Regions from separate parts of the Homo sapiens genome. Here all the other regions are linked to region 1. The links come from fine-mapping of genetic effects on gene expression. A gene starts in region 1. Each other region holds a variant in brackets. All regions are shown on one strand. Distances are from middle to middle.

Region 1 (11,780 bases):
CAAAGTCTGGTTCCTCGACACCACCACCCTCAATAATCTGGCTTCTATTCCTACTCCATCACTAAAACAGCATGTTTGAGGGATCTATGAATCCTTAAAATCCAAGGGATTATTTATTTTTTTTTTAATGGAGATGGGATCTTGCCATGTTGCCCAGTCTGGCTTCAAACTCCTGGACTCATGCAATCCTCCCACCTTGGCCTCCCAAAGTTCTAAGATTACAAGTGTGAGCTATCGTGCCCAACACCCATGCGATTCTTCTCAGTCTCATTTTATTTGAACTTTCTATATTTGACAATATCATTACTCTCTCCATCTTTCTTTCCTCTGTATATTCTGTAATTTATATCTCTGCTGTTTCCATTGCTAGATGAGGTCCTCAAAACTTCTTTATACTACTGAAATCACCTTCGAATTGGCTCTCCAGTTTCACGTATAAACCAGCTGCCTCTGCCACAAATACATTGTAACTAATCATCTTTCAAGCCTTTTCATATGATCAAGTTACTCCACTGCTCAAAAACATTTGACTACTTGTAAATTCTTGTTAAGTTCTCAGCATGCTAAGACTCCTTATGATCTATGCTTTAAGCTTTACTGCTCCCTGATGATCCATGCTTTTCCACTGGAGATGACATTCTTTTCTTGAATACTTGGTAAACTTTCACTCATTCTTTCATAATGAGATTTTAAAAATACCTTCTTTGATTAAAAAAATTTCCTCTTCCCTAATTCACTCCCTACATACTCCACAGGCACCTCTAAGATAACCGTTGATATCTCTTGCATAGACATACAATATTGTAATATTGTCTCTTCCAGCAGGCTGTGAGTCCCCAGCATGGTATATACCATGCTGTTCATAGTTGAACACTCAGCCCTTAATACGGTGCCTGCATCATATATGTTTACTTAGTGAATAAACGGAAAATACGCATCCAACGATGGAAACACTTGAGTTTCTTCCACTATTTCTTATGACTTCAGTGATTGCTCATGTTTACTTTATATCAACAAAATAATGTAGAACTTTTTGGAATACACACATGTATCTGAATATATATGGTCTGGCTATTCAGTATAATCAAGAAAGCAAGCCCTACATGCATTTAATCCTTCGCTGATTATTTTACAAAACTTTACTAGAAATAAAGTTTCTTCTATCTTGGGAGTTCGAAGTATAGAAAACTTACATATGGGATTCTTTATTAATTAGTTAAGATGCACTAAAGACTTGGCAACTATCTGGAAACTAAACTCAATCACCTACGATAATTAACAAAGGGGGCTGAGGGCCGGGTGCTGTGGCTCAGGCCTGTAATGCCAGCACTTCGGTAGGCGGAAGCGGGCAGACTGCTTGAGCCCAGGAGTTCGAGACCAGCCTGGCCAACATGGTGAAAGCCCGTCTCTACTAAAAATACAAACATTAGCGGGGCGTGGTGGCTGGCGCCTGTAATCCCAGCTACAGGCTGACGCAACAGAAGAATCGCTTGAACCCGGGAGGCAAAGCTTGCATTAAGCCAAGATCGCACCACTGCCCTCCAGTCTGGGCGACAGAGTGAGACTCCGTCTCAAAGAAAAAGAAAAAAAAATAAAAAGAAAGGGGGCTGAATTTTTTGTCTAAATACAAAGTCCTCATGTCTGCTCTGACATTACAAGGATCTGAGCACGGATCAGCCAGCTTTGGTTTCTCGGCTATAATTTGCCTCCCACTCCTCCCTGCGCCTAAGAGAAAGCTAGTGAGGTCATCTGAGGACCACCAAGCAGTTTCTAAAATCTGGGAGCAATAAGTGCGGAAAAGGGCGCAGCAAAAAAGGAACCCGGAAGAAGAAAAAGGGAGGGGGTGGGAGGAAGGCCTCCAGTGCTATCCCCTTTGGGGTCGGGGAAAGAGGCGGAACCGCCTGAGCACCGCCCTACCTGCTCCGCACAAGTGACGCCCGCGATGCCGCCGCCGACCACCACGAACTTCCCTGCCGTCGGGGGAGGGCGCGCTGCCTCCATGCTGCCGGACTCCCAGTGGTTTACTGAATATCGCGGCGGAGCAACGGGACTCTGGACTCCAGGAGAGGAAGCAGCCGCGAGGCGGTCACTTCCGGTGCCTTACCAGATAATCCGACCTACGGGTGCTCGGGAGCTCACACTACTCATCTCGAGTACCTGCTGCCGGCTGCGTTTCGGAAGCAACGAATTGTCTCGTGGTGTTCAGAGCTTTGCGTTACTATTACTACACCTGAATGTAGTTATTCCATGAAAATTTGACAAAGAGAAAACCAAAAAATTAAAAATAAAAAAGTAAAGAAGATGGGTTGCCCAAAGAAGTTTGATAAATTACATATCTAAAGATAGACCAGTGTTCTCACGGGACAAAACATTCATATAATAAATGAATTGGTGTGAAGTTCTCATTATTTGTTTCTGCGAGAAATTAGAGGCACAGATTTTATGCTCTTATGAGTAGAAGGAGCCTTCGGGAACATCCTGACCCCACTCCTGTCATTTTTGTAGATGAAGAAACTTGAGTCTTCTGAAAACCACTTGATTGCCACCGTTCACCTAACAATCCAAGATTTTTGTTTGTGGAAGCACAAAAATTCTTCATGACAAGGCAAAACAATACTACTGAATTGTTCTCTAAAAAATCATCCTTTTCATTTACAACTTTGACCTCAGCTAAAGTTTCCAGGAAGAATGTACAGTTGCTTTCCATTTTGTCAAAACAAATGAACATTTCTTAAATTTCCAGTCAATAGCAGCATGTGTGAGGGTTGAATGAAATATTCCCAGTCTCGGTTTTACTGTGAATTTTTTTCGTGGTCAATTGTTTTTAAGAAATTGCTAAATCATTTTTAACTGTTTTTACTATATTATTCACTATTCATATTATTTTACTATTTACTATTACCTTTGCTGTCTCATATAACTTTCCCTAGGAGTTGTTTTGTAATGGTAAGGTATTATCTCTCAAATGGTTCACTCTAAAACTGGTAATTACCCGAGTCCCTTTAATTCTTTAAACACTGAGAATAACCATTATATATTAACAGGAAAGCCTACCACGTATCTAATTACAGGCATTTACTGATACCTGTAAAAATCATTGTTCTTTGATTTACCAAGTTAAATGGTAAGCGGTTTAATAAACGTGTCTAATTCCTGTTACTAGTATAGCAACCAAACAAAGCATTCATTTCTAGGAGGAGGAAATACATTCCTTAAGCCCATTTAGATCTCATCTTGCTTCAGCTTATTTTCACATTATCTCACTCACACTGTGTTCCATTCAGGCCACACTACACTTCCAGATCCCAGGATATGCCATTTTCTTTCTGAGCATTTGCACATATCTTTTTCCCAACTACTTTTCCCTGGCTAACTCATCAACCTTTGGTTTCATCAAGCCATTGCTTCCCCTTTAAGATACTTTATCTAACATCCTCAAGACAGCTAGGTGTCCTCTCCGTGTGTTCTTATAGCACTTTGTCATCCTCTAAATTTAGACTTATCCCACTTTATTGTAAATTCTTACTGCCTGACCCCACCACCACCATAAACTGCTTACATAATCTCAGGGATTATTTTTGTCTCCCTTTGTATCTCCAATGTTTAGTAGGGAGTATGTATTCAACAAAAATGTGCTCAACGAAATAGGAAGTTGGTGGAGCATGAAACTCCCCTGAAGTCCTTCTAAAGATTTTTAGATTCATTGTCCAGGGTCAGGATCCTCTTGTATATTGTGACAGGGGTTTCCTCTTTATGGAAGTCGGAAGGAAGAATGGAGTGGAATTTAAGCTCCCAGGGGAAACGGAAGGAGATCATCGTCTGTGGGAGGGGAAGCAAAGTAGTAGGAGGCTCCTCAAATGTAAAGGGGTAATGACTCCACACTCTCCTTTTTTCTTCCCCTTGTGAAGGCTGGCTTTTTTGTCAAAGGTGATGTAGGGATAAGACCTAGCTGCCTGCCACACTGGCATGAATATCCAACTTTTAGAAATGTCTAAGGGTTAAAGAACTTTCAGTGCATCTCACCTTAATGTTGATTAAATTAGATACATATACTGGATGTAAAGTGGGTTAAAAGTAAGATGTAGGTAACTTGAAACATGTTATCCACAGGGAGGGCAGCAATAGGTACAGGTTAGGAGAAAGGGCAACTGCAAAGAAAACTGGGCACCTAGAAATAAGGGAGGCCCAATGCCAGGAAGCAGCAGAGAAGCAGAAAAGACAGAACTTCAGCTCCCCTTTAGCTCTGGTCAGCAAGCTTAGGAGTGACCTGGTGACTGTTTCTGAGGAGTCAAAGAAATACCAGTGTATTGCTAAATATTATGGTGTATGTTTATGGGTGGAAAAGAAAAGCAGGACTTGGCAAAGAAAGGTTCAGAGAAGAAGTGGAATTTATATTGAATCTCAAAGGCCCATAGCATTTGGATAGGTTCAGAAGAAGATGTGGCAAGTCATGTGGGAAATATCCCAAGAACCAAAGGCTTAGCAGCAGGAATGAGCATGGGAAATACAGGAGATGGTAAAAGGGAAGAAAGAAAGAAAAGTGGTTGGGGAGTTCAAGATTCATGTGGAAAAACTGAAGGAGATAAAGCTATCTTCTTCTATTTCTCTCCATAATGTTGTTACATCTGATTCCCATACCCACCTAATCTCTTGAAGGCCATCCCCAACTTTCAAACTACCATCAAAATCTAGTCTTCCATTCTTCTTCAAGTTGATATCAGAAATGCCTAGAATAGGAGTATTGAGGTTAATTTTCAACTGCAAAAATTGGGAATGAATAATGACATTTCATAGTTGGTGATTAATAGCTTTTGAGTCAGATGACCTAGGTTCAAATGTGGCACCAGCATTTCTTTGTTGTGTGACCATTCAGTGAGTTATTTACCTCATCTGAACCCTAGTTTCCTCATTGGCAAGACGGGTATAAGATCTACTTTGTAGAGTTGTTTTGATGCATGTGTGAGGCAACATATTTAAACTTCCTAGCATAGTGCGTGCCTCTTAGTAGGATTAATGGTTAAGTTGCCTGCCTGTGCCCTGTTGAATAGACTATGTTTCTCTGTCTAAAGGATTTTATCTATGATCATAACCTTAACAAGCCTATTATGCTTTTAACTCCCAAATGTCTATCTCTCATGCAATCTACTCTGAATCTTCAAGCCTGAAATTTCTGAAACATCTTGGATATCTTCTCATTTTTATCTTGGTTTTTGCCAATTCGCTGTAAGTACAGCCTGGATTCATCTTGCACTCGAAACCTCTTCTTTGTTTTGTTAGTTCATATAACTGATTTACTGAACAAGCTGGACTTTATAGGGAAGAAATTAAAGCAAACATTTTTATTTCTCAACGCTTTTCCTGTGAATGTATTTTTCTCCTCTAAATTCTTATTAATTTAGCTTATCTGATCATTCTCAGGTAATAAAAAGTCTGGTACTACCTATTATCAAAACTCCAGACACGCATCCAATTAAAGCCTCACCTAACTACAGGCAACGCAAATTGATTTCTTGTTGCTTTTTTGCTCCAGCTCTTCTCCTAACTAAGAGCTGATGTTTTCAGGGGCTTTAAGATTGGAGGGTGGGTAAGGAGTAAGGAGAGGAAAGAGCCTCACTGTTGTTCCTGTATGAGCATATATATGCAAACCTACCCCCAAAGGCTGAGAGAGCTGAGAGGCCAAAGAAAAACTGACAAATCCAGTTTCTCAGAAAGAGGTATTTAATAGGGACTTACACACAGAAATGATGATTCTGTTACAGTGCATCCCCACACCTGCCCTCCAGAAATTATGTAAGCTTTTAGGATAAAAGATGTACAGCTGATCATGTCTCAGACTTTCTTGCAAAACTCATGAACACTGGGGAGTCTAGATAAGAATCTTAATGAGAGAATTATCTAAGTTACAAGCTTTGTTTCTTTTGAAGGGTTATCTATGCTATGGGCATTGTTTAAGGACCTTGCTGCAGAACACCTTAGTATGCAGGAATCCAACATCAGTCATCATGGCCGTGGTGTCATTCTTGCCATACCGCAGGCTGTCTTCCTATATCTATGAATCAGTGGTGTGGTACAACTGTGAATCTGTGAGAGCTGATTGTTAAAATTTTAGGATTTGTGTGAGCTGATTGTTAACACAGCTATTGTTAAACACTAAATTGTATAAACATAATCAAATAAGTTATATTAAGACAAAGGTAATAAATATTCAAAACTTCTTATTTCCTAACTCTTTTGCTATTATCTCTACTCTTGAGGTTATTTACATCTATTGTATCTACAGGTAAAAATATAATGGTGGGCTACTATACATTTCTTCCTACTGCCTCATTCAGCGACGTCATGTTGATCTTGAAATTGGCCGTAATAGGAGTATTTACACCATGGAAAATGGCAGATTATACAAACCAGAGTTTGATTTATTTTATTGTTGATTTTTTAGAGTTAAAAAGGTGGTGGACAATAGCAAAGACATGGGATCAACCCAAATGCCCATCAATGATAGACTGGATAAAGACAATGTGGTACATATACACCATGGAATACTATGCAGCCATAAAAAGGAATCAAATTATGCCCTTTACACTGACATGGATGGAGCTGGAGGCCATTATCCTTAGCAAACTAACACAGGAACAGAAAACCAAATACCGTATGTTCTCACTTATAAGTGGGAGCTAAATGATGAGAACAGCATGGACACACAGAGGGAAACATCACACACTGGGCCTGTCTGAGGGTGGAGGTAGGAGGAGGGAGAGGATCAGGAAAAGTAATTAATGGATACTGGGCTTAATACCTGGGTGATGAAATAATCAGTACAACAAACCCCCCATGACACATGTTTACCTATGTAACAAACCTTCACATCCTGTACATGTACCCCTGAACTTAAAAGTTAAAGAAACACAAAATAGATGGAGACTCATTTAAAAAAACTGATGGAGAGAATGTTAATAATGAAATTAAAAGAGTGTCATGTCTGTTGTGGTAGATTGTAGTACACTGTGAATAGCACAAAAAAACTGAAGAAATTCTTTTTTCAGAGAGCTGCTATTCAATTTAGCAAAGAACTCACTAATATCAGACAAACAAGTGAAATTGCAACCTATTGTTCCTTTGTTTCACTTCCATCTTACTAGTTAATGTAAATAGAAAAGTCAATCAACATTCAAACTACACTCATCAATTGCTGTCATAGTTTGGGTAATACAAGCAAAAATCAATGAAAGGATTCTGTAGAATCAGCTGGCTATATGGAATTTACAATAAAGAGTATTGCATATTATTATTTGTAAAATATTTGCTATACACCTTTCAATAAAATTTATAATAAACCTATGTATATATACATACACACACACACATATATTTATACATGCAGTTTTTTCAGACAGCCAGTTGTTCAACATTTGCCGGCACAAACATTAGTTATAATCTAGCATCGCTGTTTTCATGGTGTGGCTGATTCCAAATGTTGATTCTCTGCTGGGGTGCTTTTATGGGTACATCAGAATCTCCACATCACTGGGGATCTCTCACCTACAGGTTCTGGGCCTTTCCTTCTCCAGATTCAGTCCCTTTTAAGATGAAACAGGGTCCACAATGGGCTTCTGGGAAACTCACTCATCCTTTGTCCCCACTAGACTCTGAAAGTGCACATCAAGCCAACAGAGCATCTCTCTTTTCTGCTGTCCGAATGTCTACCTAGTCACACCTCTGTGTCTTCAGTGGAATGAAGTATCAGTTTCTGCATCATTCGGACTCCAGGGGCTACCTGTAAAGCTCTCTAAATGGTTCCCTTAACGTCCTCCTCACTTGTGCTGCGGACAGGGCATTGGTGGTGGTGGGGTGAAACACTTTCCCTTCCTCTTCCCCATATGCTTCGTGAGCATGTTGGAGCAGGGAGTGAATGTGATGCACTAATGCTGGCAAAACCAATTTTATAGTCTTTTAGCACGCGTTGCCTGTGTGGTCTAGTACCTTGCGTTGAAGGCATTGGTCAACTTGACGCCTATTATACTGTTCTTAAGCTTTTGGAGCTGAATTAACCAGAAAAATCACATTTAACCCCATGATATACCATGTTTGTTTTATAAATATTAAACTTATACCATTTAGAAAACTGAATGCATTTCTTACACCATATTCCCTCAACTTCAAAGTGTAGTTTCTCAAGTCCTACCAATTCTAAAGTGTTTCCCAGTTCCTTCATTTCAGTTTTGACTGTTACTGCGCTATTTTTGGTCTTCTTCGCCCACTTAGACTATTAAAATGAGTTCCTGATTGGTCTTTGTTCCTCCATTCACTGTCTTTAAACTTATCCTCCATGCTGCCGTAAGAGTTATCTTATAAAAGGGAGATGTGGTTCCTCTGCCTTTCTACCACTTCTGCTTCTGGAACATTCCCAGTTCCCTGAATGCATCAAAAATTCTTGTCTCAGGCAGGGCTTGGTTGCTCACGCCTGTAATCCCGGGACTTTGAGAGGCTGAGGTGGACAGATCGCCTGAGCCCAGAAGTTCAAGACCAGCCTGGGCCACATGACCAAACCTCATCTCTACAAAAAATACAAAAATTAGCTGGGCATGGTGGCAAGTACCTGTGGTCCTAGCTACTCCAGAGGCTGAGGTAGAAGGATCACCTGGGACTGGGGAGGTTGAGGCTGCAGTGAGCCTTGATCGCACCACTGCTCTCCAGCCTGAGAGAAAGGGTAAAACCTTGTCTCAAAAAAAAAAAAAAAAAAAGAATTTTGGTTTCCTTCATTACAGGCTTTCTTGCTCTGCCTATAGAAATCTATGGGTCTAAGAATGGTAAGCTCAGATGCCACCCACCATTCTCAGGGAGAAATGGCCAAATCTGTAGTACTTTACTGCATTGAGCAGTGTTTCTTGTGTTAAAGTTGGTGTGTCCTTATTAGGCTTCTTTGAGAAAGGGAATGTATTTTATTCACCTTTGATTTTCTTGCTTGTGGCCCTAATCCCAGCACTTAGCACAGCAATTTAAGTAATATTTATTCAATAAATGTTTCTTAAGTCTTTATAATTAACATAGTAAGCACAATCTTATAAAGACCGAGGCTTCATAGTATGGCTGAATCTACAATTGTGAAACATGAATTTGCCTTATGAGATACTGCTGTTCCTTTCTCAATAGTTTGATATGATATTTTGAGACCAGGTTGTTCTGTTGTTCTAGGTAGATAAATGTTACAGTCACCCCACAGTATCAGGAAGGAACTCACAGTATCAGGAAGGAACCCCCATCCAAAATTTGATTTGGATGTGAAGATTAATGATCACACACACATACACACACACACACACACACACACACACACTCACCCCATGAGGGAATGAAAAGGCTTATTACTTACATAATGAGGCTTTCTGGGGAGAATAGGACAGGATTATAAGCTGATCCAAAAATAGCTTGGAGAGCAGAGAAGGGTGACAGGCCCTGTTTTTAATGAGATTAGGTGATCGAGCTGGGGTGAGAGTTCTGGCACATACAGGCCAGTCCTTGTATGGCTTGAAAATCACGTGGGCACCAAGGGAGGGGCATACTGAAACCTTCTCAGACTGCCCAGATGTGGGGCAGCAAGGGACAGGGGAGTCGTGAGGCCTGAAAGCTTCCAGCAGTCAAACATCAACAATGGAATCAGGCTCTTTATTACAATAAGAGGCTTTCCTGCTGGGTTTCCAATGCTGTTTACTCGGTTTATAAAATTTCTAAGCTCTTCACAAGCGGTACCATGGAGCTTCATATTTCAATTTAAGTTTCAAACCATATCAACAGGAAATACTCTTATTAAGTTGTAAGTACACAAATTCCAAAGCCAAATATAAAACCTTTTTTATTATCCGCACCTCGTTTCTATAACTTTTGAATCATGATGAAAACTTCTAAAAGATGTCCTTCATAGTACGAAATAGTATAATTTGCATGTACTTTTCTGTATCCTTTATAAAGAAATAGATTTATAACTTTCATGCTGTTTTTGAATAAAACATTAGTACTTATGTTTCATGGCATTCATTCATTAATTGCTATGATTTCCATATATAAAATAATTGTGACAGCAGTTGAAAGAATTATTATTTAATGATCTGAGGCTTAATTATTTTCTATTTAATACATCAGGTAACATTTTAACATCAGTTACATTGAAGATCAGGGAAATTCAGATTTTTTTTTCATAATTAAATAAAATCAGGCCAGATATGGTGGTTCACACCTGTAATTTCAACACTTTGGGAGGGAGGCTGAGACTGGTGGATCGCTTGAGTCCAGGAGTTTGAGACCAAACTCGGCAATATGGCAAAAGTTCGTCTCTATAAAAAACACAAAATTAGCCAGGCATGGTGGTGCATGCCTGTGGTCTCAGCTACTCCAGAAGCTGAGATGGGAGGATCACCTTAGCCCAGGAGGGCAAGGCTGCAGTGAGCTATGATTGTACCATTTCACTCCAGCTTAGGTGACAGAGTGAGACCCTGTCTCAAAAAAAATTAAAAAAAAAAAAAACTGTTTTCAGGCTAGTTATTATACTAAAGAAAAAGGAAGAAGCAACACTTTCTACTCCTATTTTTGTTGATTAAAATAACTTGTGATTTCTAAAAAATAAATTAAGATGCAAAGAAAGTACAGCATAATTTATTCGTAATGAGTAAAATGTTAAATTATGGTATCGAATGTGGCTAATTTATTTCAGTTGACGGACAGTACCGAAATTAAAGATTTTTTATCTCTTAATTTTACTTCTTTTAGAAAGAAAAATGAAACACATTTGTTGTTTCAAATATTATTGCAGTACACATTAATTTTTTTAAGTTTAAACTAACCCCAAACATATGTATATGAACATTTAAGTAAATTTTCCCTTTTAATTTTGAAAATATATTCAAGTTTACATGAGATTTTAAAGTTTTAGCTGTCAAAATATCTTTACTCAGTTTATTTATGCTAACAATGGTGGACATTGAGAATGCTTGACCAAAAGCAGCAAGCTACAAAGGAAAAGAAACATTCTCATTTCATCTTCAAACTTTGGAGATACAAGTCTAAAAAATTTCTGGCTTGATTCAAGTCAGGCCATTTAGTGCGTAGATTACATTTAGCAAAAGAGCAGTTAAGAAAACATATTTGATATAACAACAAAAATAGTTATTCTTTTGGCCGTGAAATTGCATTCACAAAGGAAAAAGCTTTTTTTTTCTCAATAAGAAGAAATATTTATTTAAATGGACACATCAGCTGGCTGTGTTGTGATTTGAAATTATCTAAATTTTTGTCAGTTGACTAATAGTTACAGCATCAGATGTCTGTAAAGAACTTTCTTTTGCCCCAGCCGTCTGCCTCAGGAACGGACACTATGCTTTTCTGTATTTATTAATGTAACCTGTTGAAGAGGAATGTTAATGTCAATTGTCAGATGGTCATGACTTATGGATTCATAATGTAATTACCTTCCTTATATTCAAAGGTAATTGAGAAATAAGTCAAAACATTTTACAGATCTAATTATATTGCAAAAACATGAATTACTTTTTGACAATATTCCTATTTTTGTTTTACTTCTTTGGTTACTTTTTTTCTCTTTCCTGTGATTATTCTTTTTTTTTTTACCTGCCCCTAAATGTAGTTGTTTCTCAAAGCCATCTTCTTTACCAAATTTTCTTCTCTTTCTATATGTCCTTTATCAGTACATTTACTCCTACTTGCCTATCAAATATTCATTATTCCCTGCTTTCTTACTAAAGGAACCCCAATTTTGTTTGAATTGACAA
Region 2 (5,000 bases), 130 kb before region 1:
AAAAAAAAAAAAAAAAACAAGATAGAACAAGAACCCAACTAATTTGAATAGTGGCAGCATTAAGAACCTATAGTAGCCTTTTTTCTTTCCAAGGATTCTCTTGAATTCGCTTGGATTCTTACTCTCATTCTTCTTTTGGGAGTTTATTCCATCAATATGCTCATTTCTCTCTTGGATCTTCCTTTTTCCTGTCTACAGTTATCTTTCTCTGAGCTCACAAAAATACTTTCTTTGTTTTTGCCTATTCTAAAATGAAAATTTCTCTTGAGGTTTCTACCCTGCCAAATATCATACCATCTCCTCCTTTCTCCTGCTGCCAAATATCTTATAAGAGTAAACCATAATTGCTAGGTTCACTTACTCATTAGCCCCTGGGACTCTGGCTTCCGACCTCCAACTCTGGCCTAAAATTGTGTTTCCAAAAATCATCGAATTCAGGGTCATCTAATGTTTTTTATTTTTCTTTATATTCTCTAGCATTTAAAGGCGGTGAACATCTGTTTCCATTATTTTTCATGACACTGCACATTCTACTTTCTTTCCAGTATAATCTTTTCTGGTGCCTCTAATCATTTTTCTACTTTCTTTTACTTTTCAAAGTGGACATTCTCCAAGATTCTATTCTAGGTCCTGCTTTCTCTATATACTATTTTCTTAAATTTTTGTTTTCTTAAGAATATAGCTACAGAGTAGTGGTCAAAGCATGAGCTTTTTGCCAAACTGCCTGTATTCAGTACCAAAAATGATTTTATGTTGAGTATACGTTACTAGCTGTGTGACATTATAAAAGTTACTTAAGCTCTCTGTGTCTTATCTGCATAATGTGGATAATCCTTTCTCTTATCTAGAATCATTGCAATGATTCAAACGTTAACATATGGAAAAAACTCAGCTCAGTGCCTGGTACATTGTAAAGATTTAGAAAATATCGATTATTATTTTGTGTGGATCACTGTCTAGATTTTCCCCAAGTTCTCATCTATTACTGAGTGCCCACAAGCTAGCTTTCTCTGGAAGTTCTACCAGAAACCATAAACACTGCAATCTGGGCTTCTTCAGACTTGCAGTAGAATCATGTGGTGGCTCTGATGGAAATTGTGAAATCTCTGAACATTTTGTGGCTCAAGAAGGTCAATGGACTTTTAGTAGATCATTAAACATATAAACCTTCCCAAGAGCATTCTGAAAAAAAAAAAAAGATCACATAGTGTAACTATGACTTTGTATTCCTTGATTTTTCTTGAAGTCTTCCCCGATTAAAAGTTTAACTACAGCCATTACTTTTAACGCTGAGGGTGCAACTACAGAGCAAGAGGAAAATTGGCTGGGTGAAAAACATGCATGGGACCAGATATTTTTCAAAATGTCACTATATAATAATAATTGGCAAAAGCTTATATTTATTACTATATCATTATGCTTTTGCCATAAATTTGACTCAAAATAGTTTAAGATGTTGAAAAGGTGATATTTTCTTAAAAATATTGGAGAGAAGGCAGTATGATAAATTTACCAATTACAGATACAAAACTGAATACAACATATGCCTTAAATATCTTATGTTGCTTTAAAAAAATTTGTCATTTTCCCTTTAATATAGTCATTAATAGTGTTGCAATTATTGATTTTGGAGCCCATGCTAATACCTTACTATGAACTCTAGCTAATACCATCCTTTAGTCAACGTTTTTCTTTTGTGTTGGCGTTGTTAACATCAGAAAGGTGGGTAACATTGTCTTCTACTTGGGAACAATAGCAAGAAATTAGTGACCAATGTTGCTTCCAGGGAAAGGAAAAAATTATGGAACGGAAGTGAAAAGGAGATTTTTCAAGGTCAATATTTTGATTTTTTAAAAATTTAAATGATATGAGCATATAACTTATATACACTAATTTATTATGTAATAATACATGTATTTATATAAACTAATTAAATTAAATTAATCAAATTAATTTAACTAATTTAACATCATTTCCTGGTTATTTTACTACATTTTACTATGATTTTAGGTTATTTGTATATAGTAGTGCAGTAATACCATTATATGTTACTGCGCACCATTACATACAAATAACCTAAAACCTATAACCTATATAATGGTGCAGTAACATCCATATATATATATATATATATATATATATATATATATATAT[ATATT/T]TCATGGATGGAAATAGTATAATGGTGTTACTGCACTTTTCTTCCCAACTCTGCATTTACATTGGTAGCTTGAAATCAGTCATGATGGGAATATTTACACCTTGGAGAAAGGCAAACACTAAAATTATCTATCTCTCTCTCTCTTTTTCTCTCTTTTTCCTGGAGTACTCTTTGTTAAATTTTACCAGCATATGACTGCACATAGGCCTGTGCATGTGAGATTATTCTGTTATAAATATGGATATTAGAAGACCTCACTGGCCTAACACTTTAGGCTAATGAACAGACAATTTCAGGACACAGATCTTTTTTTTATAATTGTTTGTGAAACAATTTGGAAAACTGCTGAGGATTACAATCCATAATAAGCTGGTATCCACATACATTCTTGCCTTCTATAGCTTTTGTATGGTACAGTTGTATGACACCACTGCATCAAAAGGGTGGAAACTCCTGAGCCAGGCTGCTTTGGTTCTAAATCCAGCCTCTGTTACTTTGTGCTTACTTGACATTGGGCAAATGACTTAATATTCTGCAGGCCAGTTTCGTTATTTGTAAAATGGGGACAGTGAAAACAATTTACCTCATAGGGATTTTTAAAAATTATTATATATCAAATATAATAGGGCCTGGCACAAAGTGAGCCCTACATAATTGCTGTAGAAAGATAAATACATTTTAAGATGTAATTGTCATACTGTACGAATCACATTATATAGTTCATTTAGGAATTATTCACATGAAAGCTTTCACTGGAAACCTTGGCTACTTAAAATTGATTCTACTGTGGCCATGTATGTAAAAGAGTGTAACAAAGGTCAGATTACTTAATAAAAACTCATAAAAATCAGTAAGTTTTTATTTTCCACAAAAAATGACCAAAAAGCCTGGATTGATTTTGTGGAACCATGTCAAGAAAATAGCCAGTTAACTGTAAAAGATTCTTTTTTTTTTTCTTTTGAGATGGAGTCTCACTCTGTCACCCAGGCTGAAGTGCAGTGGCGTGATTTCAGCTCACTGCAACCTCCACCTCCTGGGTTGAAGCAATTCTCCTGGCTCAGCCTCCCCAGTAGCTGGGACTACAGGCGCACACCACCATGCCTGACTAATTTTTGTATTTTTAGTAGAGATGGGGTTTCACCATGTTGGCCAGGCTGGAAAAGATTCTTAAAATTACAAAAATCTTCATAGCCCTATGCCACATTTTTTTTTAACATAGCTTCTTTTTTCTTGTTTTTGCTTTATGCTGCTAAATCTGATAACCCATGTATTCAACTCAGTAGGTAGTTTCCGTCATATGCTCAGAGTGGTCCCTCTCTTTCTTGTCACAGACCAATGTTTTGAAAACCAAGAATGTCTTCCTGCCTGAGCAACAAAATCTCCTGGGAAGAATGAATCAGTTGTGTTAGAAATAAGAGATGGAAATAAGAATAGAAATTAGAAGTAAGAGGTTTCCTTTTCCAATTTTCCAAATGCACAAAAGGTGTCCCATACACTTGTGGAAAACAAGATGGCAGGAGGTAGTTTAGTGCAGGGTTAAGGAAACAGTATGTGGGGTCAGACTGCATGGATTCTGCTTCGACTTACCAGCTGTGTGTTCTTGGACGGCGTCTTTAAACAACTCTGTGCCTGAGTTTCCACCTCTGAAAATGCAGATAAGAGCACTCACTCCCTTGGTTTGTTGAAGAGATTGAGTTACACTCTAAGCCTTTAGAGCAACACCTGGTACACATTAAATAATCAATAAATGAGTACTATAATAACCATTATTATTGTTATTGATTAACTTGTTTCATTGTACCAGTGCTTCATTGTTATTTTGGTCAGGCATTTCTGATTTCCTATTTCAATCAGTAGACCAAATTTGTTGCGAATTTTTATGAATTTTTTATGAACTGGAAGTTTTATAAATTTTAAATTTTATGGTAGTCAGAAAGTAGAATGTCAATAAACATCTAACTTTATAGTTTTAAAGATACTTTTTTCTACAATGGTACCCTCTTTGAAAAGAGAATTTTCATAATAATTTTGTTTTGCCTTTCTAGATGTAGTTACTCCAAACGGCTTGAATGTTAAGAAATTTTCAGCAGTGCATGAGTTTCAAAATCTACATGCCATGTACAAGGCCAGAATCCAAGATTTTGTTCGAGGTCATTTCTATGGGTATGATTTTCTTTATTAAAAAGAAAAAGAAGTATCAGATATGAGTGATCTTTGGTAGAGAGAAAACAGAATTGTAATAATAAATGTTTATCTTTCCCAGCCCCCTTTGTACATTAACAGAATTCATGTGTACATTTTGTTACTGTTGCTGTATTTCATTTGAAACTGTTTGGTTTTGTTTTGTTTTAGTCATCTCGACTTTGATCTTGAAAAGACTTTGTTCCTTTTCATTGCTGGGAGGTATGAGTTTTCAAACAAAGGAGCTGACATCTTCCTAGAATCCTTATCCAGGCTAAATTTCCTGCTGAGGGTAAGAAAGCTCTAGGACATGGTATAACACTCTTGTAGGGAGAACTTTCTTCTGTGGGAAGTGAAGAATTTTTTGGCTTCTTAAATAGTTTTCAAGAGAATAAACGATAATCGTATTCTAAAAATGGCTTCAGCCTTTCAATTTACATATTGGAGTTACCACACTGTTGACTTGTGTGTTTGTCTATAATGTCATCTTTTTTTTTTTTTTTTTTTTTTTGGAGAATCTTAAGCTTATCCCATTATATGTCTCATTAAGCTTATCCCATTCTCCCCTTCTATGTTTTAATAAGTCATTATAACATCCCTTTTCCCTCACATGAGTTTGTAATCAATTGAAAAGTAAATATAGAGAAATCCAGTAAATGCA
Region 3 (5,325 bases), 38 kb before region 1:
GGCCAGTAGAGTCTCATGAAGCATATTTTAAGGTTTCAACTCAAATATTGCTACTTTATTAAAATATAAGAAACTATTTTACTGTCAAGAATATTCTCCTAATAGTTGCAAAACATTGAATTTAAAAATGGAACTCAGACAATTTTTTAAACAGTGTTTATCAAGAATATGTGGGGAAAAAAGTCCTATGTCGGGGGCACAATGGCCCCCCAAAGATGTTCACGTCCTAATTCCTAACCTGTATGTTACCTCACATGGCAAAAGGAAAGTAGCATTGCACATGGAATTAAGACTGTTCATTAGCTGACCTTAAAATAGGGAGATTATTTTAGATTGTGTGATGTGAGAAGAACCTGACACTCTGATTTTGATCCAGTGAAACCCATAGTACACTTCTAAATCTAAACCACAGAAATGTAAGAATAAATGTGTTTAAAGCCACTAAGTTTATGGTAATATTATGGCAGTTATAGGAAGCTAATACAGTATATAACTATGTAAGCTGAAATAGAGATTCTTAAAACTTTATTATATCCTTTAATAATTTGTATCTTTAAATGTGTTTGCAGATGTCGTCGTGTGTTGATGGCTCAACATTTTGATGAAGTATGGAACTCAGAAGCATGTAACAAAATGTGCGATAACTGCTGTAAAGACAGTGGTGAGTTTGTTGTTTTGTAAACCTTTATAGGCTAATACAGTCATAATGCCTAGTGACAGAGATACGTTCTGAGAAATGCATCACTAGGTGATTTTGTCATTGTGCAAACATCAAAGTGTACTTACATAAACCTAGATGGTATAGTCTCCTAGGTGATATGTTATAGCCTATTGATCCTAGGCTACCAATCTGTACAGCGTGTTACTGTACTGCATACTGCAGGCAGCTGTAACACATGGTTAAGTATTTGTGTATCTAAACATAGAGTAAGTACAGTAAAAATATGGTATTATAACCTGGGTGACAGCGAGACTCCGTCTCAAAAAAAAATATATGGTATTATATAATCTCTTGGGACCACTGGCATATACGTGGTCCATCACCGACCAAAATATTATGTGGCACAAAACTGTATATACAGCTGGGACATGAGAGAAGTATTAGACTTCCAAATGGATTTAAAAGATTAAAGTGTGAATCAGATTTTCCAGAATTAAAACTATCAACATGAAGTTTTGAAACAAAGGTGAATAAAAGGAAAAGTCTTATGTGTATGCACACATTTTATATTGCTATACTGAGGATGTGAAATTTTTAATAAATGAAGGAAAATATTTGAATTTTTCTGAATAGAAATGCTATTCTATAAGAAAAGGGAAACCATGTGATAATCTCTAATACTTTATAGTCACTAATTGAAAAGAAAATTTAGTGCAAAATAGAGACTATAGAGAATCACTTTTGATCCAGTTAATGGCTAGTCATCGGAGATTTACTTAAAATTCTTTTAAATGTAGATCAGCAGGATTTGTTTTCTGAGCATTGGTCACAACCCTGCTGATCAAAACAGGATCTGGTCAAAACAAGATATAGCAAAGAAACTGGCCCAAACAAGTTAGAACTAGAAAATATAATGTATTTGCATGATGTAAGACACTCCCACTAGCACCATGACAGTTTACAAATGCCGTGACAATGCCCGAAAATTACATGGTTCTAGGAACTCCCTAACCTTTTCTAGAAGATTCATGAATAATCTTCCCCTTATTTAGCATATAACTAAGGAGCAGCTATAAATACCGCTAGTGAGCAATGTACAGTGCCACTCTGCCTTTGGGGTAGCCCTGCTCTGTCTATGGAGCCGCCATTTTCCTATACTCTATTGCTAATAAACTTGCTTTGCTTTCACTTTACTCTGTTGGCTTGCTCTCAGATTGTTTCTTGCATGAAACTGGGAACCCTCCTGGGCTGAGTCCCAATTTTCGGATTTGCCTGCAGCATTTTGGCACTATATTTTAACTTTTTTTCATCCGTGTGTTGTATTTCAAGATCTGGACTAGCCAGTACCTCATGGTAAGACCTTACTGAGTTCTGATGCCTTGTTAGGTGGAAGCCACTGTATTTTTAACTTTGCAGACAGAGAAATTTATGAGTTTATTAGACTATCTTATAAAATAACAAGAGTGTTATATATAAATCAGAGTACTGGTCTCTTAATAATTGGGTTATCAGTTGAGGACATTCTTGTTGCTAAATCAGAGTTCACTCAGGAGCCTATACTAGAACAGACAGGGTCTCCTATAAAACACACCTCTTAGTAACTTAGTAATCATGTCTGGCAGACACTTTCTGATTTCTAGAGTATATGGCAGGGCTTCTGATAACCAATTTTTTTTTATATATATCACTGTAAACCCCACAATGCTTACAGAGACCATAACTTGGTCTAGTGACAGAGACTTGAGGAATAGCCTAGTCTTAATTCAGAATACATTTAAAAATCAATGTT[TA/A]GGGTGGCTCACATTGATAACCAGCTTTAAACCAGTTTAACTACTTAAGATAGCCTATCTTTGCCCTCATTTCTAAATCCTAATTACCTGCTACCATATTTGTTTTATTACAGCATTTGAAAGAAAGAACATAACAGAGTACTGCAGAGATCTAATCAAGATCCTGAAGCAGGCAGAGGAACTGAATGAAAAACTCACTCCATTGAAACTGATTGATTCTTGGATGGGAAAGGGTGCAGCAAAACTGAGAGTAGCAGGTGTTGTGGCTCCCACACTTCCTCGTGAAGATCTGGAGAAGATTATTGCACACTTTCTAATACAGCAGTATCTTAAGTATGTACAAACTCATTCATTATTCTTTCAGGTTGTCTTTATGGTTTTTTTTTAAAAATTGCAACAGAATAAACGGTTTTGCAGTTATTTTGTGTGAACTTTTAAATGCTATAGAAAGTAATTTACCTAAAACACTCAAACTTTAATCACTATAAATAAAAAAAAGTAACGAAAATATTTTCTTTAAAGGCTTTATTTGCATTCTTGTAAATTTTATTATTTCAAGTCAATGTGTTAAGAATTACTGCGCATATAGTTATTTCTTTTATAAATTTGTTTTCCGTGATTCCTTCAAAAGCTTTCTTATTGTTGGCCTTTATTTTCTGCAGAGAAGACTACAGTTTTACAGCTTATGCTACCATTTCGTATTTGAAAATAGGACCTAAAGCTAATCTTCTGAACAATGAGGCACATGCTATTACTATGCAAGTGACAAAGTCCACGCAGAACTCTTTCAGGGTAAATGGCTATTAATTTTCAGTTTTATATATTTTAAAAAGTATATTAAAGCCTATGGGATGCTTTTCTGTCATATTCCCCTAGGTCCAGTTGAACATGAGAAAAGTCAGTTTTCTGATTAGATTTCTGGGTATGGAAGAGAGAAAATATAGTTTTCTGTAAAGATGTAAGTGAAAGAATTTAGACTGGCCTTTTAACATAAACTAGGGGTTTCCAGTTTCTTGGAATGGGAGGACTCCGTTTGAATATCTAATTTTGTTATGCACTCTGCTCTTATTTGGTTGTGATTACTAATAGTTGAGAAGTCTGTTTCTGCTGTTCCAGTGGTTAGAAACCACTGTTTTAAACCAAATACTATCAAGTCTGCAAAAGCATGTCAAGTCAAGTGCCATTGTGTCTAAGGACATTTGAGGTCTTTAGAACTTCTCTCACAACGTAGCCCCTTTTATTCAAAATAGAGCTCATATTTGAATAGAAATTTGTAGATAAAAAACTAGACCCCTGTATACTTAAAAAGCCAACTGATACAGAAAGAATATTTTGAAATATTTAATCTCATGAGAAAACTGAATAGCTGGATTTTTACCAAGGTGCTTGCTTTGTTTTTTTTTTTTTTTTGTAGGCTGAATCGTCTCAAACTTGTCATTCTGAACAAGGTGATAAAAAGATGGAGGAAAAAAATTCAGGCAACTTCCAGAAGAAGGCTGCAAACATGCTTCAGCAATCTGGTTCTAAGAATACAGGAGCTAAGAAAAGAAAAATCGATGATGCCTGATATGAATGTTACTAAATTTTCTAATTAAAGATGGTTTATGCATGTATATGCCATTATTTTTGTAGTTAGACAATAGTTTTTAAAAGAATTTCATAGATATTTTATATGTATGGATCTATATTTTCAGAGCTTATCTCTGAAGATCTAAACTTTTGAGAATGTTTGAAAATTAGAGATCATGAATTATATAATTTTCCAGTATAAAACAAGGGAAAAATTTTTATGTAAAACCCTTTAAATGTAAAATATTTGAGAATAAGTTCATACAATCGTCTTAAGTTTTTTATGCCTTTATATACTTAGCTATATTTTTTCTTTTGACATAACTATCTTTTTGAAAGCAATATTATACTGACAGAGGCTCACTGAGTGATACTTTAAGTTAAATATGTAGATCAAGGATGTCCAATCTTTTGGCTTCCCTGAGCCACATTGGAAGAAGAATTGTCTTGGGCCGCACATAAAATATGCTAACACTGATGATAGCTGATGAGCTTAAAAAAAAAATTGCAAGAAAAATCTCATGTTTTAAGAAAGTTTACAAAAAATGTAAAATATTTGAGAATAAGTTCATGTAATTGTCTTAAGTTTTTTATGCCTTTATATACTTAGCTATATTTTTTCTTTTGACATAACCATCTTTTTGAAAGCAATATTATACTGACAGAGGTTCACTGAGTGATACTTTAAGTTAAATATGTAGATCAGGGATGTCCAATCTTTTGGCTTCCCTGAGCCACATTGGAAGAAGAATTGTCTTGGGCCGCACATAAAATATGCTAACACTGACGATAGCTGATGAGCTTAAAAAAAAAAAAATTGCAAGAAAAATCTCATGTTTTAAGAAAGTTTACAGATTTGTGTTGGGCTGCATTCAAAGCTGTTCTGGGCTGCATTAGACCCGTGGGCTAGAGTTGGACAAGCTTGTAGATGATTTCAGGTTATAAAACCAGAAGTACAATTCAACAAAAAAGGAGTAAGTCATCAATATAAATATTAGCAAACGAGATATTGCTACATCTCTATTTAAAGTAAAATACAACCGATTTTAAAGTTCCTGAAACCATAGCCATATTTTGACATTTCACAAAGAATGGTTCTAGTCTACTAGAGTACATTTGGCTAAGTAGATAACTTACCTAAATTTGCTCCAAAGCTAAATCACAAGTAAACATATTTATGTTTAAAACACAGAAATAAATAACTTAAGATTTTTATCTAAGCGGTCAGTGTTGTATTGGAAAGATATATCTATAAATAAACTTTGAACTGATTTCAAACTTAGAATTTATGTTTTTATATTTTTC

Evidence for each region. PIP is the estimated chance that this variant, and not a neighbour inherited with it, causes the effect. A credible set is the group of variants that fine-mapping cannot tell apart.
Region 2: its variant is the best candidate, but not a certain one, in a credible set for the expression of PYROXD1 in monocytes (BLUEPRINT, PIP 0.58).
Region 3: its variant is the best candidate, but not a certain one, in a credible set for the expression of PYROXD1 in whole blood (TOPMed, PIP 0.84).

The regions. Positions count from the first base shown.
Region 1 is chr12:21,427,952-21,439,731 of GRCh38, reverse strand. It overlaps PYROXD1 (pyridine nucleotide-disulphide oxidoreductase domain 1), which reads right to left and starts at 2,077. Exons shown (of 12, transcript NM_024854.5): 1 at 1,918-2,077. The coding sequence starts at 2,001. RefSeq lists enhancers at 1,929-2,118, 2,169-2,248.
Region 2 is chr12:21,562,549-21,567,548 of GRCh38, reverse strand. It overlaps GYS2 (glycogen synthase 2), which reads left to right. Exons shown (of 16, transcript NM_021957.4): 6 at 4,204-4,321; 7 at 4,511-4,631. Among named protein-coding and RNA genes, the nearest start is that of SPX, 39 kb to the right of the region's middle. The variant ATATT/T (reference allele first, on the strand shown) is at 2,155.
Region 3 is chr12:21,468,887-21,474,211 of GRCh38, reverse strand. PYROXD1 (pyridine nucleotide-disulphide oxidoreductase domain 1) reads right to left here. Exons shown (of 12, transcript NM_024854.5): 12 at 2,962-5,325. RECQL (RecQ like helicase) reads left to right here. Exons shown (of 15, transcript NM_002907.4): 12 at 570-661; 13 at 2,565-2,784; 14 at 3,114-3,243; 15 at 3,866-5,302. The coding sequence ends at 4,018. Among named protein-coding and RNA genes, the nearest start is that of RECQL, 30 kb to the left of the region's middle. The variant TA/A (reference allele first, on the strand shown) is at 2,451.